6 separate regions of the Homo sapiens genome follow, and regions 2, 3, 4, 5 and 6 are each reported to be linked to region 1. The links are microRNA targets in miRTarBase. Many come from high-throughput screens and were not tested one by one. Region 1 holds a microRNA gene; each other region holds the end of a gene's coding sequence.

Region 1 (5,072 bases):
GTGTGCGGGTAAAGTCTGCAGCGCTTAGGTATGAGCCACTGGTGGGTGAAGGGCAAGGCTGAGGTCTGTCATTTCTTAAAATCTCAAGCTCTTTTTGATGCCTTTATATCTCAGTCTTCAGGGAGGGTCTTCAGTGCTGCCAAGTGGATTCTGGTCCTGGTAGGCAATGGGGAGCCGCTGATGGGCTCTCAGCAGGGAGCAGCAGAATGGAAATGGTATTTAAGAGGAGGCCTTTGGACCAGGCGAGGTGGCTCACACCTGTAATCCCAGCACTTTGGGAGGCCGAGGCAGGAGGACAGCTTGAGGCTAGGGGTTTGAGACCAGCCTGGGCCACATAGCAAGACCCCATCTATTATGAAAAAAAGGCCACTGATGCCAGCCATGCTGTGAGCAGACCAGAGAGCTGACCAGAGTGGGCTCCAGGAGGCAGGGGTGCCGCTCCAGGCCTGGGGTACATGCCCTCTTCTCCACAGTAAGGAATGGCTCTCCGATGATACTGTCTGTTGTGTCTGTCTTGGCTTGCTGCACACAGTGGCCACAGTGCAACCCTGGGTGGGCCCCGCAGCACCTCAGGGTGATGGGTGTGGGGGCTGAATCCCAAGCTCCACGGCAGCAGCCTCGCTCTGAGGCCTTCTTCCAGCCCAGCCCGTGCCCCCTCAATGACACTTGAGTCATCTCACTCAAATTTTTAGAAAAAAATACAGGTACAAATATGTTGAATACATTATATAGCAATACAAATAAACAAAAAAGGAAATAGCTGGAGCCTGGCAAGCCCAGTCATAGAACTTTCCTCCGTGACTTAGTTCAGATCACGTGGCCACTGCCAAGGGGATGTTACCCAGCAGCAGAACCGAAGCCTCTAGCTACTGTGAAAAAGAATGAAAGTCAACGTGGAGCTCGGGACCAGGCCAGGAGCCCTGACTTGCCACCATTGCCCTCAGAGCCCTCCCACCCAGCATGTGCCTGGGGAGGCACAGCTCCCTGCTGGCCCCTGTCTGTGGCAGCAAAGTGTGGCCTGCTCCCTGCTGAGCTCCAGGGCCAGGCATACAGCAGGCACTCAACCAATGTGTGCTGAACACAGGGACACATGGCGCCTAGCCCAGTGTTGGGCACGAGCCAAGCAGGTGCTCGACAGGTCACCAGGCTGACCTCAGAGGGCCAACTCCACAACCACATGCTGGTGCCCATGCTGGGTTCTGGGCTCAGGCCCCACAGGCTCCAATCTGCCCTGCCCCACCAGCCAGCTGGGCCTCACCTTGCGGTATGCTGGGCGGAAGCTGTGTGCCAGCCTGCGCAGGCTGCCCAGGTCCCGTTGGAAGCCCGCCAGTTCAGCGCCTGACGCGTGGTAGGTCTCCCCCACAGCCTGGCTGGCACTGGCCTGTTTTTGCCAGAGCGCTGTCCGTAGCGACAGTAGCAGGTCACAGGTGAGCAGCTGGACCACCTGTGGGGTCAGCCACGAGAGAGGGGAGACAGGTGACTGGCCCATCCCTGAGGCAAGGATCCTAGCACCTACCAGGCCTCTCCCCAGACCAACACTCAGCAGCTCTGGGAGGAAGTGGAGAGCCCCAGAGTCTGGTGAACTCCGCAGGACGTGAGGGAACAGCTCAGGGGAGAACCAGTTCCTTCCATGGCCCCAGGAGGTGGGAGACAAGCCCTCCCCATTCTGCAGGTGAGAAAGCAAGGCTCTGACAGGGACAGCAGCTTGTATAGGGAATACAGCACAGGCAGGTGGCAGGGGCAGAAATAAAACCCTTGTGGGTTGAAGGCGCAGGTTCTTCCACCCCATGGGAGTCCCACCATGGCTGGCTAGGAGGCTGAGATACCCACAAGGTACCAAGGAAAAGCCTGAAGTGGCAGCAGAGCCTGTCGATGGGGCTGGGGGAAGGAGGAGGAGGAGTGGGAGAGGGAGACAGGTGTCTCAGAAGACAGAACCACAGAGTGCCTTAGTGCTTGGGGACTAGGCCTACTGACCCGGCTTTGCCACTTACTAGCTACATGACCCTGGCATAGGACTTAGTCTCTCTGAGCCTCAGTTTCTTCATTCAAAAAAATGTAAATGGCACCATCACAGGGCTGTTGTATCATATGAGAAGGTACTGCATGTGGGCCATGCATACTCTCTGCCTACGACCTATGGGGCTGGGCTGCCCACCCGGCTCGCAGTGGCACACCTGCACGACACCGAGCAGTGAGGAGTCCTTGTTGAGATGGGCCGCAAGCAGCCCTCCGGTCCTGATGAACTCCCTCAGGCTGAGCCTCATCTCACCCAGCCCTGGCTTTCCTCCTTCCCAGGACACTGGGCCTGAGGAAGACCCTGCCCTGTCCCTGCACAAGGCCTTGATCCTTGCCTACACTGTTTTCTGGCTGTTGTGTGCTTCAAGGGGATGTGGAAAAGGATCCCTCTCCTCAAAACCTGGCACTTCTAAGCTGTGCATGCTGCAGAAGCACCTGTGGGCATGGAGGCAGCAGGCCTATGTCTGGATTCTGCCCTCCGAGGGCCATCAGGCTGCATGGCGTTGTCTTCTAGGCTCACTTTCCTACCACAGAGCTGCTACCAAGGAACCCCAGTCCAAAGGGTGGCTGCAAGCCTCTCATTCCCCAAACTGAGCCTGTACTGTTTGGTTCTCTCATGAAGACAAATACGGAAGAGACTAATGGAAAGCCCAAAAGAGAAGGTGAAATGTGGCTCACCATCTGCCTTTGGTCTTGGCAGCCCAGGGCATTTGGGCACCCCCACCAGCTTTTTTTTAAAGATGGAGTCTCGCTCTGTTGCCCAGGCTGGAGTGCAGTGGTGCAATCTCGACTCACTGCAACCTCTACCTCCTGGGTTCAAGTGATTCTTCTGCCTCAGCCTCCTGAGTAGCTGGGATTACAGATACATGCCACCACACCTGGCTTATTTTTGTATTTTTAGTACAAACGGGGTTTCACCATGTTGGTCAGGCTGGTCTCGAACTCCTGACCTCAGGTGATCTGCCCACCTCAGCTTCCCAAAGTGCTGGGATTACAGGTGTGAGCCACCGCGTCCAGCCAGTTTGGGCCTTTTCTGCACATTGCCTGTCCCTGTAGGGGCTGCCACGCTGTCCTGGGTTCATCCCAGTGCCCAGGTCCACTGACAATATCTAGCTTGAAGTACTAGCCTAGCCAGCTAAGACCAAGCCCCAGGGAGTGGCTGAGAATCTGAATCTCCAGGACTCTCCCGGTCCCTCCCACTCTGGAGCTAAGGACATGTTCCCCGTAGACCAGGTGATGCTCCACTTTCAGCTGGGTGCCCTCCTGTTTCCTGGGATGGCTGTGACTTGGGCCCCAACAGTGGCAGCAGTGCCCTCTATCAGGATCCCCTCCCCCACCTGATAGGGCCTTCAGTCAGGGCAGTCTCTCGAGGGCCAGGCAGGCCTCTGTGATGCACTGTGGAAACATTGCATGGGTACCACCAGAACATGCAATGCAACTACAATGCACCACAGCTGCCCGCCAGGAGGTATGCGGCCAGCCAAGGAGGTGCCCAGGGTGGTCTTCAGCTCTGTTTGTGTGCCCGAGGGGGCAGGAACCCACTCCAAGGCTGCCTGCAGAGGCCTGGGAAGTCACGCAAACCGCTGGAGCAAATGCAGGTGAACCCCTGGCCAGCTGGGGTGCACCTGGGCTTACAGAGGCTATGGGCCAGCAGGACCTGGGACTCTGGGAGCCTAAGAAAGGTGCAGGTAGAAACACACTTGCCTCAGAGGCTGAAAAGGGATGAAAAAGGAGTCCACCTAGGCCAATAAGCCGTAACTTTTTTGAAAGGGGGCTGCTGTCCTGGTTTCTCTGTCTTTCGGATGGCCCCACCCGCAGGGTCAGCATGAGGTGAGTGGGAGTGTTCTCGTAAACCAGTGCAGAGCACCTCCCCCAGGGGCCAACTCAGCTCCCACTCACGTGGTTGAGGGCAGGGTCAGAGGTGGCCCCACTGACGTTGAGGCTGCTCCATAGGTGGCCACTGGCCCTCTCGCAATGGCAGAAGGAACTCTGCTGCCCATCTGCTTTCCCAGGGAGTGAGGCATGCATGGCTCTGCAGGCATGGAAGATGGCCTTCACCAGGGGGCTCCTGCAGCAGTGACAGGGAGTCGAGAGGCAGGTCACTATGTGTCACCTGCGTGACAGGCAGAGGGGCCCAAGCCAGTGACTGCCACGCCCCACACTGATATGACATGTGCATCTGTTGACTCCAATGCTGCCACTATGGCACCATGCCACCAGCTCCAGATCTGAAATGCCAGCCCTGAGCTAGGGTTAGCGCCCCACCCTTTAGCACCTTCATTCAATGCTGGAAGTCAGAGACACAGGCTTCACCATCACGTCTGCTGCTAAGAAGCCACCCAAGATAGTCATTCCAACGTGTGCCTCAGTTTCCTTACCTATAAAGTGGCCACAATAAGGTGTTGTACCCGTTCTTTAAGGGACCACCCCCCCAGAGATGTGGTATTAAACTCTCTGGAGATACTTAGTTAGCTTCTTTCTGTAGAGGAGACTGGGAGTGGAAGGGGAGGCTAGGGATGGGGGAGGGTTCTCATAGCATCCTAGTCCCTGAAAAGCAGAGGGACCCAGGGGTAAGTGAATCCAGCAGGCAGCAGTGCCTGCAGGGGTGTCTTGGCTGTCCATGGAAGCTCTGCTGCTCTGGAGCGAGGTGACTTTGGACAACTTACCTGCTGAGTCTCAGTGTCCTCAGGCACATCGACTGGGGGAGACACACATACAGGTGGAATGCTATACCGGGCTGGGTGCTTACCTAGTCAGAGTGCTTACAAATGGGGCTACTTCAATGAAATTAGGGTGTCACATCTACTTCAGGGAACAAAGGACTTCAAGCCTGTGTATACTCACTCTTCTCAGCTCCTTCCTGTGCGCCGGTTAAGGGTCTGCTTGATAGGAAATGCTACAGCCTTGGCTCTAAGGATAGGACCTCGTGGGGCCTTTCTGTCTTGGAGCATTTTACAGTTTCTCTTAGAATACTCAGATCCAATTAGAAACAGCCGGGGAGTCAGCAGGCAGGGCTGCCCATCACTAGTGCCGAATGCCCCCAAGACGCAGACATG
Region 2 (5,072 bases), not on the chromosome of region 1:
ATATGCCAGAGGATTATCCTGATCAGTTCGATGATGTCATGGATTTTATTCAAGCCACCATTAAAAGACTGAAAAGGTCACCAGATAAACAAATGGCAGTGCTTCCTAGAAGAGAGCGGAATCGGCAGGCTGCAGCTGCCAACCCAGAGAATTCCAGAGGAAAAGGTCGGAGAGGCCAGAGGGGCAAAAACCGGGGTTGTGTCTTAACTGCAATACATTTAAATGTCACTGACTTGGGTCTGGGCTATGAAACCAAGGAGGAACTGATTTTTAGGTACTGCAGCGGCTCTTGCGATGCAGCTGAGACAACGTACGACAAAATATTGAAAAACTTATCCAGAAATAGAAGGCTGGTGAGTGACAAAGTAGGGCAGGCATGTTGCAGACCCATCGCCTTTGATGATGACCTGTCGTTTTTAGATGATAACCTGGTTTACCATATTCTAAGAAAGCATTCCGCTAAAAGGTGTGGATGTATCTGACTCCGGCTCCAGAGACTGCTGTGTATTGCATTCCTGCTACAGTGCAAAGAAAGGGACCAAGGTTCCCAGGAAATGTTTGCCCAGAATGGAAGATGAGGACCAAGGAGGCGGAGGAGGAGGAAGAAGAAGAGGAGGAGGAGGAGGAGGAGGAGGAGGAGGAGGAAGGCAGCCATCATGGGAGCCTGGTAGAGGGAGATCCAGCTACAGACAACTGGACAGGAGAGAGAGAAAACAGCCCTCTGGATTCTCCAGGATGGCAGCCGATGTCACTAGAAGCTCAGGGCTGATGTTCCTGGTTGGCTATTGCCACCATTTCAGCTGATACAGTCCACCATCACTGATTACCGGCGCGGTTGCGGTGGATGCACTTGAACCAAACCAGTGTATCTCCTGTGATTTGTTTTCATGTGTCCGAAGACACCAGGGAAACAGAGATCCTGGTGTTGTTCCTTGTTATTACGTTTTACTGCTGAAAGTAAGAGGTTTATTTTTCTGTCACTCAGTGGAGACATACCCTGGAAAGGAGAGGGGAAAAAAAAAGCAAAGATACAAGAGATAATCACCTTTGCATTTGAAAGTTGAGGCCCGAGGTTTACTACAACCAGCATTTTTGCCAACGGTTGGTGATTGATTTCCATCACGGTGTGTGGGGTGGGAAGAAGTTGGCTAGGAACCAAAAAGGCTGTGCTCATGATTAAACACAAACCTGAAGGTATTTCCTTTATGTCCTTGGAAACAGGAAACGAGTTGTGGTTTTCGCCAGCATTCTTGTAGGAGAGAATCGGGGAAGGCCCCGAACTGCCCCCGGGCAGGGAGAGCCCCTCAGGCCTGTTGGTTTACAGAGAGACAGATGTTACATAACCAGCTCCGTTGATGCGTGGTCACCAGTGACCAGAGAAGCTACTCGATGCAATGCATCTGTTTCAGATACAGAAATATAGAGAAGATATTTATTGAAATTTAAGTTATTGTTATTTATTACCGTTCACTAATGAATTTCTCTTTTTTCCCTTATTTATTAAAGTTTCTTTTCAAAGGTGCCAAAGTATATGTGCTCGCAAAATGCAAAGAAAGGTGACAAAAGGAAATTTGAATTGGGAACAAGGGTCCATGCTTTTCAAAGTATTAAAAAGTTTTTTGCCAGGCAAAAATCACTTACTTTACCTTTTTAAGAAAATTTGTCATTAATTTTCCCCAGATTTCAGCATTTTTCCCAATTTTTATTTGTGGAGCATCTCAGGCAAGCCCCCTTTCCTGGAGCAGCGTGCAGAGACCACTGGCACTTGACTTTATTTCTTCCTTGCTCCATTGCTGAACAGAAATGTCGTGGGCTCCACTTCCTGTTGTCTTTAAGCTCTTAGTCCCCTCCACGTATACCTATCTGTACTATGCATAACCATATGTAGAAAAGGTTCAGTTCCTTTTAGTAGGTAGTCCTGGATTTAATGCTGACCTAAAAGTAATGTCGACAATGCTGTCAGGTAGCTGCCGTTCTACCGACTCCCTCCATCCCTGCCCACCCACTGCCCTCCCGAGAATATGCTGGCTGCCCAGTGCAGCCCGGGAGACACAGGGGCCTTCCAGAGGTAGGGTCTACCAGGTCCTGTACAACCCCTGGGCTGTCACCGGGGGTCAACAGCTGCTGCTCCTATATACCCAAACACCTGACAGCTCCCTGGGGAGCAGATGGCTGAGAAGGGTGCTGAGGAAGCCATATTGGGACCAGCCACAGCCACACACATGGAGCCTCATACTTAGGAGCGTGCTGCCTTTAAATGAAGGTGGTCGGGGCCAGTGCAGCGGCTCACACCCATAATCCCAACACTTTGGAAAGCCAAGGTGGGAGGATCTCTTGAACCCAGGAGTTTGAGACCAGCTTGGGCAACATAGGGAGACCCTGTCTCTACAGAAACTTTAAAAATTAGGCAGGCATGATGGTGCACACCTGTGGTCCCAGCTACTCAAGAGGCTGAAGGAGGATCACTTGAGTCCAGAAGGTCGAGGCTGCAGTGAGCTGTGATCATGCCACTGCACTCCAGCCTAAGTGACAGTGCGGTACCCTGTCTCAAAAAAAAAAAAAAAAAAAAAAAGAGGTTGGAGCAGGAGGAAGCATAGGGGCGGGAACAGCCACCTCCTCCATGCCCTAGATTGTGAATTTATCGGGCAGCCAACACATGTATGACACACTAGGCCCTGTATTACAGCTTGTTACGCATTTCATAAAAGGGATTTTCATTAAGGAGATAATCTATTACTACCTACCTTAGTGGCTACTAGTATAAAACTATGACAGATTTAGCAATTAAATGAAATACTGGCCTCCATCAAATAATCATAGTAACAAGAAGCAGCAGTTACCAGACATCTGATCCCCTTCCCCCAAAATACCCAAATTCTTCATGGTTCTGCCCTTCTCTGTCCTTTCTGCTCCCCTTGCTCGCCTGGGAAATGGAGGAAAGGCCTTCCCTCTCACACTGTCTTGGGATCTTGCTGAGAATTCAGACTGCTCGAAACAGTGACAAACCCCAGCCATCCAGTCATTCGTGGAGCACAATTTGGATGTGGCCCCAGGGGCATCTGTCCCATTCAGAGAACCTTGGCAGTGCGATGGCCACTGTTCCCAGGCTTCAACCTCAGTGACCCCCCCCAACAACTCCCCATGGAGAGTCCCTGCCCAAAAAAGCTGTAGGATCCAAGGGGTGTCAATAGCTCGTTCCCGGCATCACCTACACACCACAAGCAGGTTTTAATGGAAGCAAGTTGCTCCACCAAATCCACAAAAGGGTAAAGTTTGTGATTTTTCTTTATCATTGCGATCACCATCTGATACCGTAAGGAGTGCACTTGTTTGGAAGTTCTGACTTCTCTGATCTGTCTTGGTCGTTTGTGTTATAAAACCAAAGTTCTCTACAGACTTTATTTTTGTACAATATCATTTTGTAACTTTTTACAAATAAAAACTCATTTCTATTGCTCTCTGTACTTCTGTACTTCCTTGCATGCACTGGGCCAGGCAGCCATCCACAAGTATTTCTTAGGAATCACCCCCTTCTTACCACACAGCCCACTGGATGGTCAGTGGCCTTGCCTATCAACTCCCAGCAACCAATCACCCACTCAGGAGGGACAAAACTTGCAAAATTGTTCTTATTCATTCAACAAACCCTTATGGTGTGCCTACACTGTGCCAGGCACTGTTCCTGGCACCAGGGCTCTAATGGTGACCAAAGCAAAAACCGCTGTCCTCCTGGAGTTATTTTATTTGCGGGGAGACAGACAACATTCAAAAAAGTAAAATATGTAGTGATCCCTGTGTTGAGAAACGCTAAAAGAATACAAACAGGATCCTATAATATAGACACTAACAGGGGAGCTTGCTTTAATTAGAAATGACTTTAAGACCGAAGTTAAGAAACAGTGCCAACAGATCAGGAGCGTCCCAGGCAGAAGAAGCAGCTTGTATGAAACTGAGTCACGTCACAGACTGCCTTGTGACTATCAAAAGGCGGCCTTGCATGGTGCTCTATGGCTCTTCTGCATGGCCCCAGCCTAGGCTGCCCCATGGATGGCATTTGTGCTGCACTAGCCTTTGCCTGAAATGCCCCCTCTTCCCGATGCACGCCGTCCCTGCGTGGAGACTTGGTGGAGTCACGGGTACCAACCTGTGGGTTCAGGCATTCAGAGTCCTTCTGCCAGGACTGGCTGGAAGAGGCTCCAGGGTGGTGCTGAGGCCAGCTGCGTTTTCTCCAAGCCAAAATTCCAGTCCAAAGTCAGTGACTTGGAGCGGGAACATAAGATGGTAAAACTCCTGCTTACCTCCTCTCCCTTTTTAGAGCTATTTTCCCAAAGTGTGTCCAGGATTACTTACCCAGTGAGATGCTCCTCAAATTTAAAAAAAAAAAAAGGGAGGAGGACAGGATGGTTCTCTGATCAAATAACTTTGGAAAATACTGAGTTAAATAGCATCAACCCATGCTTTAAGGTTTAAAATATAACTGTAGAGCTTATCAGAGCCTTTATTGGGCCAATGATTGTTTCACAGTCCAGGGGAGGGTGTCGTGTGCAGAATTCCCCATGTAGACGTGACCATGGATCCATGGGTTCATTGTTTTGTCTTCTTTCTCATCACACCTGGTGACCACCCTGGAAACTATTTTGGGCCATCTTGCGTGTTCCTGTGAGTTTCATGGTGAGTCACGAGCTGTACTAGAGATTAATAAGAGGCAGAAACTACTGGGCAGCTCCCTACTGGGAGGGCACCCCTCCCCAAACACACAACACACACACACACACACACACACACACACACACACACACACACACACGGTATTTGGACCCTGGTTTCTTGCTCAGCATGAATAACAAAACGATTAACCAGTGGTCAACTTTAGAAACTTCCTTAACCAAGAAAAGGAGAATGTGCTGAGAGCTGGGAAGTCCCCAGCAGCCTGGGGGCGCCTGCACCTTGCTCCCCCGTCCTTCTTGGGCTGGTGCTTTGCTGGTCTGCAGCCCTGAGTGCGCGCCACCCCTCACTGCGATCCCCAGAGGGAAGGCCATGCTGTTGGCCTCCAGCTCTGAAATCCGCGCTGC
Region 3 (5,072 bases), not on the chromosome of region 1:
CCAGCGCTGGCTGTGGGCCCCCTGGGAGCTGCCGATTCCTCCCTGACCTGCCCCAGAGGGTGCGGAGGCACCTCCCAGCAAGGATGGCCGGGGCCTGGCTGCTTCATTCTCAGACAAGGCTCTGGGATTCCAGCCCTTCAGAGGGCACTGCTGCCAGCCCTGGTCCTAGACCAACGCTACCTGTGGGGCCAGGGCCACCTCCCGTGACAGTGGATGGGCAGCTGGCCTTTGCCCAGTGGCCTGGTATGCTGCCCAGAAAGGGGGCTGCCTGTCGCCATGTCCAGGCTGGGGCAAGGCCGCTTCGTGAGCGCCAAGGCCCGGCGCCCACGGGTGACTCAGGTTGCTGGTGGCGCCCCTGCTGGGCCAGGTCCGTGGGAGGTGGGCAGGCCCCTGAGCTCAGCCCTGAGCCTGTGCGGCGGGTTCTGGCCCTTTCCAGGAGGTTGCAAAACACTTGAATTTGCCCCAGTTTGGGTGTAGGAGCATCACACACCACAGCTAATTAAATCCCAGAAGGAAAGCATGCTTTACTGCATTTCCTACTGAGTCCAACAAGCCACAGGGAGTGCCGTGGGACCTGGGCCCATCCCAACCCGCAGCTGCAGGCCCCCTCCCGGCTCTTGGGGGCGGTCTCAGAGTGGGCAACACATGCCTGGTGGGGGTACGAGCTTCTCTCCACCCTCTGGGGCGGGGCCTGGGATGTGGCATCATGGGCTGGCCTGGGTGCAGCGTCCTGAGGCCTTGAGATGCCTCTGAGAGGTCCCCGAGTCCCCGTTCCCCTTCCTTGGGCTGGACTCGGGGCCCTGCTTGTCGTGAGGTTGGTTGACCCTGGGTGTGGTCCATCCAGGCCCAGAAGACCAGGGGGCAGTTTTGGGGTCTGGCCAAGGTCAGCAAACCACCCTGAGTCCCCATTCTCCCTCCCCTGGGCCCCAGGAGTCAGTGCTGCCCCAGAGAGCTGCCCACTGTGCCGGAGCCTAGAGGGAGCTCTGTGGCTGCACCACCCACCCACCGGCTGCTCAGGGCTTGGCTCCCTGCCTCGCTTCAGGCCCCACGGGAGGCCCACCAGGGCCTGGGAAGCTCCAATAATGGTTTTAATTTGTTGAACTTGTGTTTTATCCCATAAATTAGTCACTGTTTTATTTAACAGAATCAAGATATCCGCAAACAATAGGCGAGTTCCAACTTGAACATTTTAATAAGACAGAAAAAAGTATATATTTTCATGTCTGTTACAAACATATTTATGTAAATAGCCTGTGGGCTGCATTCCAGGAGGAAAGAAGAAAGGGAGTGCCCGCGCGCCGGGGCTGGGCTGGAGACGCACTTCTGCGGTGGGAAATGACACAGGCCTGGGCGCTGTGGGCTGAGGCCACTCCCCTGCCGTCCCTGGTCCCTGGTGCCTGGTGCCTGGCCGGCTGGTGCCAGGCTCAGTGAGGGAGAAGCGTGCTGCGATAACCGAACCTCTCCAGCCCCCAAGTCTGCCTGTTTCCTCATCGGGCAAGTGGTTGTGACATCCCTGTGGCTGGGGTGTGATGAGCCGGTAAGACTCCTCAGCGTGGAAGAATGTGGCAGATCCCGCACACATCCCCTCCCCAAGGTCCCAGGAAGCTCCGGCCACCTGGAGTCCAGCTCAGGGAGGGGCTGCCAAGGTGATTCTCACGATGTGGTGTCGTGAGGAGCCGGCCATCAGTTGGAAGTGTCAAGACAAACTCTCGGAGCGCCTGGGAGGCCTGTACTCCAGGCTAGGTCTGGTGGACACTCCGGCCACTGTGCTTCCGAGGGAGCCAACCACGGTGCCACCAGGGCTGGCAGCTCAGGCTCTGGGCTGGTGGCTACGGACCCAGGAATTATCGGCCCCTTCTGGCTCTGCCACCCTGTGCTCCAGGCAGGAGTCGCGCCAGCATCCGGATTGGATCCGGGTACGCGCCGTTCCCAGCCCGGGCAGGTCCCTGCAGGAAGGAGGAAGGAGCCGAGGGAGGAGGCAGGAGGGTGGCCCTGCCAACGCCGGCCCAGCAGCCCAGGAGAGGAGAGGGTTGGCTGGGGTGGGGGTCCTGGGAGGCTGCAGGGCCTTTGTCCGACGACCCAGGCCTTGGTGTCAAATGGCTCTGCCCAAAGATGGCTCCTGAGCCCCAAGTGGGGGCTTCAAGCAGGGCTGGGGAGGAGGCTACCCTTCTGGCCAGGCCAGGAATGAGCCCCCTACCTCTGTCCCCAGCAGCCCGGGGACAAAACTGGTCTGTTCCCCGCTTTTCCTGCCAGGGTCGAAGGGTGCCCAACTCCTCCCGTCACCCCACCGGTGTAGCTGGGTCATGGCCAGCCGATTGGGGGCGATTTTAAGAATAAAAGATAACTTGATAGATTTTTTTCCAGTTTTTATTGAGTGAAAATGTCAAACCTTGCATCAGTCATGCAAAAAAAAAAAAAAAAATCAAATAAATAAAACACATATATTAAATTTCTAATAGCACTAAATTCAAGTGGAAAAATATTCAGTTCTTAATAACCAGGTGCCGAGGAGACCAGATTCAAGTAATCAGAGCACACGCTGTTCAGCTCGGGTTTCACGTTCTGTATTTTTTTTGTCTCAAAACCTCTCTATATATCTCTATATATCTATATATGTATATACATATAGATATATACACACACATATGTGCATACATATTATTTGATATTTATATATATACACATACATAGTTATAAAACATTAAAAAGAGCATTGGTGGATCAAGCATTGTTTCCCCACAGAAAGAAAATAAAACAAAAATTACACGTTAAAATTCAAAATGAGCTAGCAATGGCTTATAGTCCTAGTGTGCAATATGAAGTTTACAAAAGGCTAGACTCCGCACTGTCGGCATCTTCTTCTTTTCTTCTTTTTTTTTTTTAAGTTTGATTTTGCTACATTGAAAAAATGTTTGTGTGTGTGTGTTTTTTTTTCCTTTACAAAACTCCTTCCACAGACGCCCGGGGCCTGTGGCGGGTCACTGTCTGGGCAGATGCTCACAGCAGCACGTGGTGCCCACAGAGTTCAGGAGGCTCTGGTAGGGGCTGTTTTAGAAAATAACTGATTTCCTGTTGAATCAGGTACGCTCCGTGCGACCACTCCTCCCTCCCTGCTCCCTGTCCAGTTCGGGTGGTCCTGGCTTTCTGGCTGTGGGCAGCTGAGAGGACAAAAGAAAGGAAGAAAAAAGGGAAAAGTAAACCACTGCCCCCCAGTTGAGCCAGGTTCCTCCTGGAGACCTCTGGGGAGGAGGCTTCTGGATGACAGCCTCCCCGCCAGCCTTCCATTCCCTCCTAGGCCTGTTCTCTCCCGGTGGCCCAATCTGACACCAGCTGGTGGCCTGGAGTAGGGAAGGTGGGCAGGTGTGGCCTCGGGCAGCCTGCCCTCGCAGGGGACTCGGTCCCCGGGGACCTCAGAGCCACTGGCCAGGTGTGTGCCTGCCAGGTCAGGCCCTGGCCCGGGCTTCGATGGCATCATCATCTCCAGGAAGGGGGATGTTTTGCAAAGGGAACCCAATCTGGGTAGACTGCACCAGCGAAGAAGCATCCCAAACAAAGTAATAAAACAAACTGGAAAAAAAAAAAAGCCCTATAAAGCCACACGCATCACCAAGAGAGAACTCAAATGTTAAATTAACTACAAACTTGGATCAACAGTAATAGTCCTTTTTTCTTGTCTCTACAAAATTCAAGTTAAGAGTTGGAATCACGCAGCTCCCATCAGTGCTATTGTGAAGACAGACAGCCTCAAACAGTTAAGGCCTCTACAAAAACCCTGGACCAAATCCCACAGGATAAACGGGACTGAGCCTCCAACCTCAGGCCGGGCCCAGGCGGGTCTGCACTCTCACCACGCCTGCTTTCTTCCTTTTTGTTCTATGTAGAATAATAACCTTTACAGGAAAAATACTGTACAACTTTCTTGTATTTTTTTCCATTTTGAACATTAAAGCCAAAACCAGGCGCATCCTTCCTGTTTGCACCACCAGGGTGGCCGAGACCCCGCCCCGGCCCCCAGCGGGCTACTCTGGGTTTTGGACGCAGCCTCGGTTTCCCTGGGGCGGAGGCTGGGGCCAGGGAGTCGCCAAACAGACCCGACCCAGGCCTGGGGGAGCAGCCGGGCCCTGGGGTGGGGCTGAGCTGGAGCTCCGCGGCTGCTACTCCCGTGAGGCTTCCTCCACGGTCCCTGTAGTGTCACCCGTGCTGACTGCCTTCTGCCCGTCTCCCCCTGGGCAGGGGGGAGGATCCTAGCTGCATGAGGGAGGCCCCGCCAGCGGCTCCAGGAGCCACCCCGCCCTGGTGGCGCGCGGTGGGGGTCCCGGTGGCCCCCAGCGCCCGTCCCAGTCCTGAGCAATGGTCGCGGGGCCGAATCGGCCGCGGGGAGGGGCGCCGGGGCAGCGGCCGGGAGCTGCGCCGCATTCGCCCGGGACCCCTGCTCCTAGGTTCCCTACCCCGGGACAAGAGCACCTTCTGTTTCCCTGAAGAGACCCGGCCTCCCTAGAGCAGGGCCACCGCCGCCGCCTGTGTCCTCGGCCGCGGAGCACCAGAGGGGTCCCCGCCTCTGTCCTGAGACGGACTCGGGGTCCGGAAGCACCGGCGGGGCGCGGGGCTCTGCCCAGGGGCCGCTTCGCGCGGGGCGGCGCCGCTCCCGAGGCCGAGGCCGAGGCCGCCGCCAGGGCCACCCGCGGGCGCCGCTAGGGCGAGGAGGCTGCAGTGGGCGCGGGGCCGGGGGCGCCCAGGGCCGCCAGCGCCGCCAAGGCCGGGGTCCGCGCGCCCGCGCCCGCCGCCTCCGCCGCCGCCTCGGGCAGCGACTCCTCCGAGTCGGTGCGCAGGTCCTCGTCGTCGTCGTCCTCGTCGTCGTCCTCGTCGTCGTCGTCCTCGTCGTCGTCCTCGTCCTCGTCGTCTTCGGCCTCCTCCTCCGGCAGCTCCAGCTCCTCCTCCTCGTCCTCCTGCGAGGACTCCCCAGCTGCGGCGGCGGCGGCGGCGGCGCCCTCGCGCGGCCCGGGGGCGGCGGCGTCGGGCGGGCCGGGGTCGCCCGCGTCGCCCAGCGCCAGGCCCAGGCCGGCGGCCGCCGA
Region 4 (5,072 bases), not on the chromosome of region 1:
CTCGTGATCTGCCCGCCTCAGCCTCCCAAAGTATTGGGATTACAGGCGTGAGCCACTGCGCCTGGCAGTTTTTTTGTATTATTAGTAGAGATGTGGTTTTTTCATGTTGGCCAGGCTGGTCTCGAACTTCTGGCCTCAAGTGATCTGCCTGCCTCAGCCTCCCAAAGTGCTGGGATTACAGGCATGAGCTACTGCGCCTGGCAGGAGCTTGCCTTTAAATGGCTCAGGTACTTTAGCCTGAAGTTGACCTATAAGAGCACTGATGCTCAGAGAGGATCCTGATTTCTCCTTCTAGGGAAGTTGGATCTCCACACTGTAAACAGAAGTGGGTTCTTTGGCCTTTAGCCTTAATGGCACTCTAAAGTTTGTTCTTGGATAGATTCTGCAGCATTTAAATTTTCTTTTCTTTTCCTTTTTTTTTTTTTTTTTTATTTTGAGACAGAGTCTAGTTCTGTCGCCCAGGCTGGAGTTTAGTGGCATGATCTCGGCTCACTGCAACCTTCGCCTCCAGGGTTCAAGCGATTCTCCTGCCTCAGCCTCCCGAGTAGCTGGGATTACAGGTGCCCATCACAGCGCCCAGTTAATTTTTGCATTTTTAGTAGAGACGGGATTTAACTGTGTTGGCCAGGCTGGTCTCGAACTCCTGACCTCATGATCCGCCCACTTCGGCGTCCCAAAGTGCTGGGATTACAGGCGTGAGCCAATGCGCCTGGCCTGGTTTTTTTTGTTTTGTTTTGTTTGAGACGGAGTCTCACTCTGTTACCACGCTGGAGTGCAGTGGTGCAATATCGGCTCACTGCAACCTCTGCCTCCATGGTTCAAGCGATTCTCTTGCCTTAGCCTCCTGAGTAGCTGGGATTACAGGCGTGCGCCACCACACCCAGCTAATTTTTTGTATTTTTAGTATAGACGGAGTTTCATCATGTTGGCCAGGCTGGTCTTGAACTCCTGACCTCAGGTGATCCACACGCCTCGGCCTCCCAAAGTGCTGGGATTACAGGCGTGAGCCACCATGCCCGTCCTACATACACATTTTTATGGGAAGAGAAATCACAGCTTTCATCAACCACTCAAAAGAGTTCAGTGATTTGAGAAAAGTTAAGTAAGATGCACACAGCTACAGACTGGTGCTAAGCACTGATGCCCCAATCTGTATTTTATAGAAATCCTGGATCCACCACCGCTGCTGTTCACCCTCTCCCACCCATCCTGACCCAGACCCAGATGAAACAGGCCCTAATGCCAGCCCTTCAGGTCACTTCCTGAATAACCAATGGCTTGGAAAAAGAAAAAAAATATTTAATGGAATCTGTGCTCAAATAATATGTTACAACAAAAATATACAGAATGTACACAATACAAAAATACTTAGAAACAAACATTGCAGTCTGTGTTTTGTTTTTTCCACTTACTCAAGTCCTCGGAGGGGCAGTTCACTGTTGGGCACTGTTTTTAAGGCAGAGGAGAACCGTGCTTTCCAGCCAGCACGGGGAGCAACATGAATGATGCCAGGAAAGGCTTTCACGGCACCCAGGGAATCTGCATTACGTATTTGCAAATTAAATTGGACGCTGGGGGAAGATCCTGGTGTGGTGAGCAACAGCTCCCCTAATCCTCTGGGCAAGAATGGTTCTCATGGAAATCGAGAGTCCTATTAGCTGGCAAAAGAGCCTCATTAGGGAGCTTTTCCTAATTAAAAAACGAATGATGAATGGTGTCATTAAAGCGAAATTTCTCCTTTGAAGGTTTGTTTTCCCTTCCCCAGTTTCTGTGATTCCTCTCCCGTTTAATGAGAGCCAGTGAGTCTATGGCTGCTGTTTGGGGATTCCCCAGCTTTCAGTTTCTGTATCCTGTGGATAAAAGGCCAACCTACCTCCACCAGCCTGAAGATTTACACACCACCCCCTGGGCTGGCAGCCACCTCAGACAAGGAAAGAGGCACAGAGGACACGGCCAGCCTTGGCCATGGGGAAGTGCTGCTGAGAGGGTGGTGGGACCTGCTGAGGAGAAAGCCAGATGCCACAAAGAGAACCCCTCTGACCAGACAGCTGCCTCCTGACCTGGGGAGAGGCCTGGGTCAGGTGAAGTGACCCTATGACCCCACCCTGTGGCCCCGCTTGGAAGTCATGGTTGGGAGAGGGGATGGAGGTGGGTGTGCTGACAGAGAACAGCTGGGGCTGGTGGTCTAAGGTGTAGACGAGGGTCCTTGGCAGCAGAGGACACACTTAACATGGTGGGAGACACGATTCCGCCTCCACTGTCCTTCTCAGTAACAAGCTTCCCTGGGAGTCCCCGAGGGAGCTGAGTGCTTCTATGAGGGATTTCTAGAATCTTCTAGTTCAATGCTTTCTCACCCCTAAGAGAGGAAGCCCCCTCTCCAGGTCATACCAGACAGAGGTGGCACTCTGCTCATTCCACCCACACCACAGAATCCCCAGGGGCCAGGACAGGAATCTGGAGGGGATTCTCCATCCCTCCAGGAAAGGACCTCATCGCTCAGCTTAGTGCGGCTGCAGCCCAGGCAGAGGCAGCAATGTCCTGACTCCTTCTGCATCCTCCCCTGGTCTTCCCTGAGCCCAGCTCCACAGCCTCAGAGCCTCCTCCTCTGAGGCACTGACTTCCATCTACATCTTTCTATCACTAGGGCAGAGAACGGTGGGCAGGGCACACACAAGACGCCCCAGGCTGACGCAACACCGCCAAAGGCGTGGGCCCACAGTGCCACAGGCTGCGGCCCTCAGCATGGCACTGGTGCAGGGGAGCAGGACCTAGGGAACTACATATGTGGATGAGGCCAGGGCAATCTATTTAGCAGTGGGCCAAGATGCGGTATGGCTGGGCCTCGCCTGCCAGTGAGTGAGTGAGCCCATTTACATGTAGTCACCAGGATGGGAAGCCACTGTGGCCCAAGACCCCAAATGCCTGGCCTGACTGACCCTGGACCCTGCTACACTCAAGGGCCAGGATGGGCACCAGGCTGGAGGAAGACCGTTCCCACACTCCTGCCCCTGTTTCTGGACACGCCCAGCCCCCCTGCCTCCTCCCAGGCCTGGCGTTCTTTGTTCTTCTGGGCTGTCAGTGGTTGAGAATTCCAAGAGCACGATAAAGGGAGTGTCATCTTTTGTCAAAGGTCATCCTCATGCCCTCCATTCGGGGCCTGCACCAGCTCCTGTTAGGAGGGTCATTCCCTCCATCTTGTTTTCTCACCTGTGTAATGGGGTGGGGTGGATTTGATAACCACCATGTTCTCTCCCGCATCCAAGCCTCCGAGGCTACTGGCTGCCCTCCCTCTGAGGTTCATCCATGCACCCAACAATTCTCCTGAGGCAAAGTTTTCCAACTAAACTGGAATTCCTCTTCCTGTAGCCTCCTGTCCCCCTAACTTAAATGGACACATGGCCTCAACATTCCTACCCCAGCCTCTCTTGCGCCCCCAAAGCTCTTTCTCTCCTAAGGGAGATAGGATGGAACCTTTTTGGATATGAAGGCCATCTCAGACGGAAACAAGAGCTGAACCTGGCAAACCTCAGCATCCAGGGATCCTTGGAGGGCTTGAGCTCTCCCTCCAGCAGGGCCATTCTGCCACCGGTCAGTGATGCTCAGGGGCAGGTGTGGAAGGGACAGGAGATGGGAAGGAAGGGGGCAGGCTTTGTCAAAGCAAGGACATTCAGCAACCACAGCACACCACGGTCTGCCACCTCTCACGGATGCCCACATGGGCCCCCTGCATCCTCCATGCCTTCTCTGCAGGCGCTGTCGTGCCTCAGTTACCTTTCCCATCACATACACACATATACGCACACACACACACACACGCATGAATGTTTCAAAACACTGTCTCCATAACCAAAGAGAGGCACAAAGTAGTGTCAGGGCAGCAAAAGGAAAGAAAAAGACCCTAAAACAAGGCTGGGCATGGAGGCTGGGGCACCCGTGTGAGATGCCAATATCCTGGAAGAAAGGGAGGGAGAAGTCTGAAGCTGGTCCTGGGTCTGTCTTCTCCAGGGTGGAACTTGGAATGAAGTTTATTCCCCCTGCATGGGTCCCTCTCACTGGGTACCCCCAGCACAAGAGGGGTCCTAGAGCCTACAGGCTCCCTGCTCTGCCCAACCCAGGCACAACAGATCATGCCCCGGTGCACACCAACCAGCCCAGGAGGGCACCCTGGTTTCAGCCAGGTCACAGCTGACATGTCCAGTAGGCCCTCTTCTTACTGGAGCCCCAGACACAGCAGGTGTCAAGGAGACACCACATGGCCTGCAATTATTTCTGAGCTAGAGAGGGGCCATGCCTGGACGCAACAACCTTCGAGCCTTCCCATGTCTCTTAGGGTCTCTGAGGGTAGAGGAGGAGGAAGAAGCTGCTGCTCAATCCGCAGCAGTGAGGGGGCACCCCCTGGCCCCATGGAAGAAGCCCAGCCCAGGTGAGGGAGGGCCACTCTCACACCCCACCCCAGACCTTCACCCTGGCCCGATGTCATCAGAGCAGCCGAGAAAAACGACAGCAGCCACATCAACTCCTCCGCCAGATGCCTTTCAGAAAAGGGTCTCCACTGTGTGTCCAAATCTAAACACAAACATTACAGTGGCCCAGAGTCTTCTGTCCTTGTCTGCCCGGCCTAGCTGAGCTGGTGATGAGAAGAAACCTCGCAGGCGCTCCCTGTGGGTGCTGCTTTTCCCTCCCCTCCCCGACCTTGGGCCTCCAGCCCTCAGGGGGGAGGCGGCAGCTTTAAGTCCAGCAGGGTGTAGGCAAAGATGTTCCAGAAGACAGCGAACAGCACGAAGACGGTGTACATGGCCACAAAAATCCACCACAGTGACTGGTCCTGGAGCCTCTGCTCGTAGTTCCTCAGGACCACCACGCCCAGGGTGATGCCCACGGCCACGCCACCCAAGTGCGCCACAAAGCTTGGGTGAGGGCACGGGGGATAGGCCGACGGGTGGAAGCGGAGCCACACGGCCCGCCCAAACTCCATGCTCACTGCAAGGGGAGGAAGCAGAGAGATGTCACAGGAGGGCCCTGAGCAGGGGCTGAGGGCCTTCACTTCATCACCCACCCATGAATTCATTCCC
Region 5 (5,072 bases), not on the chromosome of region 1:
GATTTTTAAAAATAGTATCTTTGGTGTTTAAGCCCTCCATTCTATCAATGTCTTCTTGTTTTCACTAAAATTAGTGTGCAATAAATATCTCTTTAAGATGCATTATATGTTAATCTATCCAACAAAATATAGAAAATATAATACTAGACTGAAATGACAGTTAAAGCAAATTTATTGTCTCTCCAAGAGACTTTTTAAGATTATAAGGTGTCTATTTTGCTCACTTAAAATATACCCTGAGTATTTCATTACTTCATACTTGCAGGCCTTTCCTGCTGATCTGCTACCAATTTAAAAGTAAGTGAAGTGTTATTATATGTTCCTATTAAGAACAAAATAATTTAATATTAAAGTCCTATTTTTCTACAAGGCTGACATAATTGCCCACTTATAGGATATGGGCATTCTCCCACACTTAATGCCCCACTACTGATAAAAAAAAAAATAGGAAAAAAAAGTTCTTACCAACAATTCCACTGGTTATCGTCCCCAGCGAACCCCACCTAGCAAGTCGACATCATGACATGTCAGGTCAGGGCAGCCTCAACCTCGCTTCCCTGATAGTCAGGTGATAAAAGGAAGGAGTTAAAACAGGAAAAGTACACTTGCAGATTTCTGGATAACATCTGAAAATGATTAAAAAAACAAAAAAACAAAACAAAACAAAACAAAACCAGAGCTTCTGGTAACCTCTAAATAAAAAAGTATATATATGTACTTTTATTTAAAGAAAAAAAACTTTTCTAGAAGGATTAACAATAATTAACTTCAAATTAAATATTATTAAATTGCTGACCAATACATTGTATATGCAATATTTTTAAAGCTTGGTGTTTGCGTTTGAAAATTAAGACCTAATCAACAAACTTCTAATATAAAAGTAAACATGTCTGGCTAATGGATTTGTTATTCTGGATTCTCCAGTCAGTCATCCAATCTACTGGTTTCCTCAGAACAACTCCACCCCTAAGTTAACAGAAGCTCCCATTCTTAGAGAAACATAAACACACTTATAAATCCAGTGTAGTCTTTCTATAAGGCTTTTTCTTAGTTGCTCACTTAAGAGATTCCACATAATAATTGTCCACATAATAATGGACTACACTAATATTAACTTTGGTTAGTTTTCTTTAAGAATATTGGTAGCTCAGTATAATAAAATTATCTTTGAAAAATCAAAATGACAAGTTTTAACATATTTAGAAGCCTTGATAATTGACAAGCAATAGCCTTATAGCAAGTATTTACTGGAAGGGTTTGGTTTTACAAATGCACAATTAATAAAACGTAGGTATGATTATATTCAAATGGGCAGGAGGCAAATGATGTAATGAGTTTCAAGAATAATATTATATGGCTTTATGCTAGGAGTGAAATTTTATGTCCCTTCTCTTTTAGAATTTAAAATATATAATTTATTTTTTTGCATGCTGACCTTTTTAAAAAGAATTCATCTCCTAAGTCAGATTTCAAAGTCAAAAGAGAGAAAAATTATCTCCTACTATCAGAAAGCATTGGGCTTTCTTATGCAGAATAACCCCAGTAACTAAAAAAACCTGAAAAACAATTATGCTGAACTCATTTTAAAAAAACTACAGAATCATAACTCATTTTCCTTATCTTTTCACCAAATAAACCTGCATTTATTAGAAATCTGGCAACTTATTAGAACTTTTTTGCTCTTAAAAATTAAAATACCTTCATATAAATACATACATTTAAGCAACTGCTATAAATGAGTGATCAAATAAAAATTAGTATTCCATTATGGGGAGGGGCATATTTGTATCGGTCTCACCAGGGTACCTACAAAGAATAGCTCTATACCTCAATATATTTCCCAACACACACTTTACTGTAACAGGCTCATAAATAAAGCCAAATCAATTAGCTTGGGGAACAAAAAAGATGGAAAGACAGGAGAGCAGGAAACCAAATTCCTTACACTCATAATTTGTACCTAATTTAAAAAAAAAAAAATGCCAATCTAGAATAAAGACCTCCCTCAACTGACATTTTTCAGGTTTATATATTACACTGTTAGATTTATTTATGTGAAAAGTTGAGCTCTGAATCTATTTTCTCTGAATGCTGCTACAGTGTTAATTTACAAGACATGAAAGAAGAAAAGCTCTTGAGTTTTAATGTTTATAGGATTATGCTTTACAATTTAAAATAGCCACAAAACCTATAAACCAAATATTAGAGGGTACCTCTGCAAATATATTTTTAATTAGTGAAAAGGACAGAGGAGGAGGTGGCCACTTTAAAATTCAAAATATAATTTGCAATTAAAGGAAAGGATTTTGACATGGAACCCAAGTTTTAATCTTATGTTTTTGCGAGGGTTTGTTTTCTCAGAATCATTTCTATCCCCATTCTTAGCATTCTTTATGACAACTTTGTAGCTTGTAACACCTAATTAAGAAATACAAACAACTCAAATTTTATTTGTAGATTTTGTTCTTTCCAGGAAAAAAATCAGGGTTTTACTTAAGTCTAATTAGATGTATAGTTACAACTTCAAATTGTACTTTCAAAGTTTAAAAGCAGCATTTAAAGAATGTTTGGTGTCTTTACTTGCATACATGGGCATAAGAAAAACAACTGGATCTGTCTTACCAAAGAAATACCCATGTTAACTCAAAACTATCATACAACAGACCATAATTCCTTTATCAGTTTCCAAAAAACTAAAATATCAATAAGGTCTGTTAAATGACTATACTGTGTAATGAGTGTACTTTGAAAAAGAAATGAAATATATTGACTTTCATCAGTAAATAGTAATCTTAAATTGAAATGAAAAGAAGCCATGAAACCCAATATGATCTAGCCAAGATTACACGGAATTAAGTGGCTTATGATTTTGAAATCTAATATTCCTATCACAAAGACACCAAACAGGAACAAAACACAGAATAATGGTGTATCCATTTTAATTATTCCCCAATGGCTTCTGATATTTTTATCATTATAAAAACATTTGAGAACCACGTAAGAATAAGATGGAGGGGAAAACTTAATAGTAATTTGAAAGTGATTCACTTTTCTGTACCGTAAAGCTTAGATTCTTTTGTTCCTCTCATTCTCAAGCAAAAAAGTCATTAGAATAAATCAGAATTTCTAAAGGAAATAGGGAAATAGATGTTATGTCTTGGCCAACAAAAAATTTGGGCATCAGGGATAGCAGATAAATAAAAATAAACGAAGTGTTAACAGAAAGTCAAAGGTATTACTACTGGATATTTTTAAGCCTCTCTTACAAGGCATGAATGTTTCTCAAAGCAAATTTACATAGTAATAGGAAATTATATTCCTAAACCAGTAACTGAAATGGTAGTCACGATCATTTTCACTAAAACTAAAGTCCGCAGTGCAATTGACGCCACAGTACTAACAATTTTCCCTGTATGTACATTCACTTATCCAGCAAATAAGGTCTTCAGTCACAAATTATCCCTTATAAAGAATGTGGGTCAAAATAAATTGCAGTCTGCTTTCCCAGCCACATTTTATTTGTTTTAATGCAAATTATCCAATGCCTGCAAGAATGCTCAAAAGTCTATGAACCTGTTTTTTTTTTTTTAATAAAAGATAAAATTTCAAAATTAGAAGAGACTATGAGAGAACACCAATCAATGAAAGTGCTAATTGGAATAAATACTTGAATTTAGACTAATCCTCAGTCTAATATCCACAACACATGTTGGAATAAACAAGAAATTTTGCATGAATTTGATCACTCACATAGGCAGTTATACTTTGAAAACAATATTCCTTGCAAGGATTACGAATAAAATAATGTTTTAGGACACAATTGAATTTGAAATAGGTAATGTTTTGAATAGATTTTTTAGTTTTATTGAAATCTTACATGAACAAGAAATTGGAAATACAATCACATCAAAGAACAAATTGTCACGGCTTTTGACGTTTAAGCCAAACAAATTTTGTAGGGCAGATTTCAAAAAGGTGTGAAGTTATAACAATTTAAAAACACAGTTAACCTACTTCTAGGAATGCAAAACATACAATCATAGGTTATTTTCAATACAAGAAAACTTAAATTTGTTTGCTTTAATTTCTTAAAACTACTAAGACAAAGCACTAGCTTGTATTTTTATTTACAGCATACTCCATACTCCTATGTAATCTATCCCAAATCCAAAAAAATGAAACTGTCCAAAACCAAAGGTTCTGCAAAATCATGATTTAACAGTGTGCCCAGCTTGTTTTGAAGCTAAAATGAAGCCTGAAACGATAAAAGCATTGTAATCCCCAGAATAAGGGAACTCTGCAAGCCCAATAATGTCCAAGAGCATTTATGAAAAGAGGAAAAATAAAAAGACTTGAGTATATACACAATAGTGATTTCTTCAGCCCAATACAAATGGCAGCAAAATGCTACTTAAAGATGAAACAGTTAAGCCAATTTTTTTTTTTGAAGAATGTAGATCTAGAGCCAATCGTATCTTGCCAGTATCATTTTCAAGCCCTTACTTGTCTACTTCCACTGTTGCCCATAAGTATCCTGATAAAATTCCTGGTTGTCATTATTGTAACCATAGTTACCAGAATAGTCACCACCTTGCTGAAGCGGCTGCTGAGCGATGGGTTGGGAACCCCAGTTCTGTTGGTTGTTGGTCTGACGACGCTTGGAATCAGGCTGGTTGTACCCATCTGCCTTTCTCTTGCCTCCTACATTGCCCCCACGATTGCCCCGAGATCCACGGGAACCACGGCCTCTCTGCTGTTGAGCAGGACCCCCTCTGCCACCCCTAGAGCCTCTTGGTGGTCCCAAAGGTGCCCCCCTCTGTGAATAGCCAGCTCTACCTCTTGGAGGTGGTGCTCCCCTCCCCCTTGGTGGTGGTGGAGCACCTCGCCCTCCCCTTCCTCCTCCTCTTCCTCTTACTGCATAGCCATCATCATAGCCGTAGTAGGGATCTTCATAGCCTCCACGATAGTCGTGATAATCATAACCATAGTAATCATCATAGTAATCTTCATAGCCGTAGTAATCTGGAGGGTAGCCATATCCACCTCTCCCCCCACCACGACCCCGACCTCTA
Region 6 (5,072 bases), not on the chromosome of region 1:
GTCCTACACATTCCACCTACTTCTTTTTCTCCAATTATCTCTCTTAATATTAAAAATACTCTGTATTGGTCAGGTAGGATGGCTTATGCCTGTAATCCCAGCAATTTCAGAGGCGAAGGCAGGAGGATTGCTTGATGCGAGGAGTTTGAGGCCAGCCTGGCCAACATGCCGAAACTCAGTCTCTAGCCTATAGTCCCAGCTACTTAGGAGGCTGAGTGGGAGGATCACTTGAGCTGGGGAGGTCGAGGCTGCAGTGGGCTGTAATTGCACCACTGCACTCCAGCCTGGGCAATGAAAGTGAGACCCTGTCTCAAAAAAAAAAAAAAAAAAAAATTCCCTGTATTAATCTACTCCAAGTTTCCAAGAGACACCATGCTACTTTAGGTGGCTCTGTCTTGGTAAAAATGTGCCTCTACTTCAATTGCCTTGCTGACTTGTAATGATGATGATTTTTTTTTTTTTTTTTTCAAGAAATCAGCCGAAGTAGACTTTCAGGGATCCACCTTCTTTGGGAAGCTTTCCTTCATACCATGTGCCTACTCCTGTCCTTGCTTTATTGTCCTGGCATTGCTCTCATGCTGTTTACATGTGTGTATCCCTTTCCTAAGCTGTAAGAGCCTCAAGGCCAGCACAGCGTCTAGCACATAGTGAGTGCTCATCAATTGTACAACCTCTTATAAACTACATGAAAATACATCATTATTAGATTGTAAATAAAAAATTGTAAAGTCTGCATGTAAGAGAATGTTATCCGGGTAATGTTCTCGTTATCTGTAGAGATGGCCGTTCTATAAAAGCTGCTTTGGAGTCATTTTCATGACCACAAGTCAGTCAAGTACTCAGTACAACTTAGACAAATGCAACAAGTAAACCTTGGAGTAGATGATTCTGGATTTTAAAATACAGATATAAAGGATATTTTTGAGACAATTAGAGGAAAAAAAGGTGATATTTATGATATCACTATCATATTTATGATAGGTGATATTATTGAATGAATGTTAACTTTCTTAGGGATGATAATGGTATTCTAGTCAGCTACAATGTCTTTTATCTTAGGCAGTGAGTACATGCTTAAATTTTTAGGGAAAAAAGCCTCATGTCTGTAACTTGTTCTCAACACTTTTTTTTTTTTTTTTTTTTGAGACAGGGTCTCACTTGGGTTGCCCAGGCTGGAGTGCAGTGGTGTGAGATCAAGGCTGTCTGCAGCCTTGACCTCCCAGGGTCAGGTGATCCTCCCACATCAGCCTCCCAAGTAGCTGGGACCACAGGTGTGTGCCACCACACCTGGCTAATTTTTGCATTTTTAGTGGAGATGTTTCGCCATGTTGTCCACACTGGTCTCAAACTCCTGGGCTCAAGCCATCTGCCCGCCTCAGCCTCCCAAAGTGTTGGGATTACAGGCATGAGCCACTGTGCCTGGCCTCAACGAGTTAATTTTTGAAAAGCATACATACACAGGGAGATACAGCAAATGTGGCACAATGTTAATTGATAAGAAGTGTGAGTAACTTTCAACTTCTCTGCATATTTGAAAAATTTCAAAATAAAATGTTTGAAGGAAATGCTAAGAACACAACAACAAAACCCAAATCTTTTGAAATTTAAGCATCAACATTGCTTTTGGCCTCTCTCCCTCCTAAACCTGCAGAAAAGTACCTCCCATTGCCATGTTCACACCACCACATTTCAATCAGGTTTGTGTTTTAAAGTTGAAAGCCACAGTCATCCCTTGAAAAACACTCTATACTTTGCTCTCTTAGTTGACCAACCGTTAATTTTTATTTGTGCAAATGACATTACATTAGACTTTAGAAGCTTAAGCAAATAAAAATGTGCTTCCCAATTGCTACGTGTAATTCCTTGAGATCAACTATCAGAGACTTTAATCTGAGACGACTTGAGGTGATAAGGAAGCAACAGAAGTTGGCAGCAGTCTTGCTTTAATCCTCTCAGAGTTGCCAAGTTCCTGGCAAAACCTAGTTATTTGTTATTGCTGTGAAGGTAACGCTGGAGCCCAAAAAATGATACCCCAAATGAAGGCCGCAGAAGCAAAGTTTCTCTGCCCTCCTGTCTGTTGACCCTGATTCTTCCCCAGGTGAGCCATAGAAACTAGAATTCCTCTTCTCCAAGACCGGCCATAGAAGCCAGAATCCCGTTTCCTGAAAGCCAGCCATAAAACCTAAATATATTGCTCTTAAATTTCCCCCACCTTTCTATGTAACAGCTGGCCATAAAGAAATTAAGACACTCATTCCAGAGGGATCCCACCCCCACACCCAGCAGAAGGAAATGCTGCAGACAGGCCTTGGTGAGCTTCCCCATGTAGTCTATTCTGATAGCATTAGGACCATATCCTTTTTGTCCATATTTCTACATGTCCAATCATATTTCTACATCGACTTTTCATTGAACATAAGCATAAAAATGAACAGTTTTCCCTATATCTTTGGGTCTTCATTCTGAAGGCTACCATGTCAAGTAAACTATAAGTGTGTTATGCTTTTTCTAGTTAACCTGTCTTTTGTTATAGGGGTGTTAGCCATGATCCAATGGGGAGGGAAGGGATCACTCCTTTCCTCAAGTGATCAGGCAGTTGGATCACTTGAGGTCAGGAGTTCAAGACCAGCCTGGCCAACATGGCAAAAACCCTGCCTCTACTAAAAATACAAAAATTATCCAGGTGTGGTGGTGGTGCATGCCTGTAATCCCAGCTACTCAGGAGGCTGAGGCACGAGAATTGCTTGAGCCCAGGAGGCAAAGTTTATGAGATGGTGCCACTGCACTCCAGCCTGTCTAGTCTGGGTGACACAGCAAGACCCTGTCTCAAAAAAAAAAAAAAAAAAAAAAAAGTTAACGAACTTAGGTACCTACTTAGGAGAACCAAAAATATATGGCCACACAAAAATTTGTACATGGCTGTTCATAGCAGCATTATTCATAATAGCCAAAAAGTAGAAACAACCCAAATGTTCATCAACTTACCAATGAACAAAAATGGCATATCCTTACACTGGAAGAGTACTGTCAGAAAAAGTAATGAAATACTGATAATATAAACATGGTACAACATAGATGACTCTTAAAAACACTATACCAAGTTAAAGGAGCCAAACCCAAAGGTCACATATTGCCTGATTCCATTTACATGAGATGTCCAGAATGGGCAAATCCATAGAGACAGTTTATTAGTATTTCCCTGGGGCTGGGAGCAGAGGGGTTGGGACTAGGGAAATGACTGCTAATGGTACAGAGTTCTTTCTGGGGTAAGGAAGATGTTCTGAAAGTAGATGGAGATGGTTGCACAACTTTGTGAATACGCTAAAAACCACTGAATTGTTCAATTTAAATGGGTGAATACTATGACATGTGAATTATATCTCCATTTTTTTAAAAAAAGTTAATGAAAAGCAACTTTCTTCTTATTTCATTTTTAGGGACAGGCAGGGGAGCCCAGCGGCATGCTGGATATGAATGTATCTTCAGCCTTCAAGTTACCATTGGCCAGAGGGAAGAGTGGCCCCAAACTCTGAAGAGCGCTGGCAAGGCTCCCCATCTTCCTCTCCCTAGCCTCCACAGGAACATCACAGTATGGCTTGGCATTTTTTTTTTTTTTTTGAGACGGAGTCTCACTCTGTCACCCAGGCTGGAGTGCAGTGGTGTGATCTCAGCTCACTGCAAGCTCTGCCTCCCGGGTTCATGCCATTCTCCTGCCTCAGCCTCCCGAGTAACTGGGACTACAGGCGCCCGCCACCACGCCCAGCTAATTTTTTGTATTTTTAGTAGAGACGGGGTTTCACTGTGTTAGCCAGGATGGTCTCAATCTCCTGACCTTGTGATCTGCCCGCCTCAGCCTCCCAAAGTGCTGGGATGACAGGCGTGAGCCACGCGCCCAGCCTGGCTTGGCATCTTTAGGGCAGATCTCAGTATGCCTTGCATTCCAATTCATCTCCAGAATCCTACACTTCCTCCAAGGTCAGTCCTCATGCGAGTCTCCAACCTCATCCCCACTTCATTTTCCTCATTGTACTTACCATCTTTTATTCGTATCCCACCAAATTTTGGCTTTGTTAGCTATACTGCAAATAGTAGATGCTCAATAAACTACTAGTGAATGAATGAACTTGGAAAAAAAAGCTTACACAGAAATCTGTACTGGATGTTATTTAAAAGATGAAATTTCATGGTTCAAATGTATTTTTCTCCCATAAAAATATTTTCTCTTCCATTTAAATATATACCTAATCTTTGAGAAATCTTGCACAAATGGCATTTTATTAAAGAAAATCTAATTTACAAAGCTTTGTAAATTTTAAGAAAAACATTCATAGATCATAAACAAAAATTTCAATATGCAATATTCAAATTTACAAGAAAATAAGCACAAACTTTTAGACAGTGCAGTTATTGCTGCACTCCTTTAATTCCTTATCCAGAGCCCAAAAAATGTAGACAAACCCTAAAAATGTAGCAGAAGCATTTCCGCACACTGGTGTCCAGAATCTAGTTTGTGCAGAAATGTTTCCACTAGATTTATAGAGTACTCTTCAGAAGAAAGAGGCGAGGGCTCGTCATTTGGTCACCCTTTGGACATTTTGCAACTCTTCAATGGGTTTCCATTGTTGGTTGATTGTTATAAGCTGAAGAGAAAAAAGGAAAAAAAAAAAACCTTTTGTTAAAAATTTGACTTTCATTTGCATGTCCCTCTTTCGGATTTGTCCACACTCCCCTTTAGAAAAAGCATCACCATTGTGTTTGTACCTACCTCTTTCCATATCTAAAACATGCACAAAATAGTAATGTGAGCTGGTTTCTATCAGTCCATCTTTTTACAAAGCCCTTGGGCTCCTAAGTGTTATGAGATCAGAGGGAAAGATCAAACACATGTGCCCTACTTTCACTTAGCAGTATCCAGATTTTTTTTTAAGACAGTCTTGCTGTGTTGCCCAGGCTGGAGTGCAGTGGCACAACTGCAACTCACTGCAGCCTCCGCCTCCCATGTTCAAGCAATTTTCGTGCCTCAGCCTCTCCAGTAGCTGGGTTTACAGGTGCGTTCTACTACACCCAGCTAA

What was found. The annotated mature microRNA hsa-miR-33a-3p reads CAAUGUUUCCACAGUGCAUCAC and lies in region 1 at 3,404-3,425, opposite strand. An mRNA with a match to its seed (bases 2 to 7 or 8) in the 3' UTR can be bound and repressed. Matches are read on the target gene's strand: a 7mer-m8 pairs with bases 2 to 8, a 7mer-A1 pairs with bases 2 to 7 and ends in A, and an 8mer does both.
Region 2: miRTarBase lists GDNF as a target of hsa-miR-33a-3p. The part of its 3' UTR that is shown has no 7-base or 8-base seed match.
Region 3: the mRNA of CASZ1 is a reported target of hsa-miR-33a-3p. Seed matches in the 3' UTR shown: 7mer-m8 at 2,908-2,914.
Region 4: miRTarBase lists RHBDL3 as a target of hsa-miR-33a-3p. Seed matches in the 3' UTR shown: 7mer-m8 at 3,821-3,827.
Region 5: the mRNA of HNRNPR is a reported target of hsa-miR-33a-3p. Seed matches in the 3' UTR shown: 8mer at 3,837-3,844, 8mer at 3,803-3,810, 7mer-m8 at 3,275-3,281, 7mer-m8 at 2,563-2,569 and 8mer at 2,143-2,150.
Region 6: the mRNA of COXFA4L3 is a reported target of hsa-miR-33a-3p. Seed matches in the 3' UTR shown: 7mer-m8 at 4,518-4,524.

What each region holds. Positions count from the first base shown.
Region 1 is chr22:41,899,342-41,904,413 of GRCh38, reverse strand. MIR33A (microRNA 33a) reads right to left here and starts at 3,470; the gene lies at 3,402-3,470. SREBF2 (sterol regulatory element binding transcription factor 2) reads right to left here. Exons shown (of 19, transcript NM_004599.4): 16 at 3,916-4,084; 17 at 1,259-1,444.
Region 2 is chr5:37,811,061-37,816,132 of GRCh38, reverse strand. GDNF (glial cell derived neurotrophic factor) reads left to right here. Exons shown (of 3, transcript NM_000514.4): 3 at 1-3,456. The coding sequence ends at 482. Among named protein-coding and RNA genes, the nearest start is that of GDNF-AS1, 26 kb to the left of the region's middle.
Region 3 is chr1:10,634,251-10,639,322 of GRCh38, forward strand. CASZ1 (castor zinc finger 1) reads right to left here. Exons shown (of 21, transcript NM_001079843.3): 21 at 2,354-5,072. The coding sequence ends at 4,692. Among named protein-coding and RNA genes, the nearest start is that of CASZ1, 160 kb to the right of the region's middle. RefSeq lists an enhancer at 710-1,672.
Region 4 is chr17:32,320,866-32,325,937 of GRCh38, reverse strand. It overlaps RHBDL3 (rhomboid like 3), which reads right to left. Exons shown (of 9, transcript NM_138328.3): 9 at 1,279-4,980. The coding sequence ends at 4,709. LOC124903980 (a long non-coding RNA gene) reads left to right here and starts at 520. Exons shown (of 2, transcript XR_007065711.1): 1 at 520-560; 2 at 1,164-1,379. RefSeq lists an enhancer at 2,429-3,308.
Region 5 is chr1:23,305,947-23,311,018 of GRCh38, forward strand. HNRNPR (heterogeneous nuclear ribonucleoprotein R) reads right to left here. Exons shown (of 11, transcript NM_005826.5): 11 at 1-5,072. The coding sequence ends at 4,508. Among named protein-coding and RNA genes, the nearest start is that of LINC01355, 23 kb to the left of the region's middle.
Region 6 is chr15:45,432,516-45,437,587 of GRCh38, reverse strand. COXFA4L3 (cytochrome c oxidase associated subunit FA4L3) reads right to left here. Exons shown (of 5, transcript NM_197955.3): 5 at 4,248-4,640. The coding sequence ends at 4,572. MIR147B (microRNA 147b) reads right to left here and starts at 4,538; the gene lies at 4,459-4,538. LOC107987223 (a long non-coding RNA gene) reads left to right here. Exons shown (of 2, transcript XR_001751510.2): 2 at 3,438-4,119.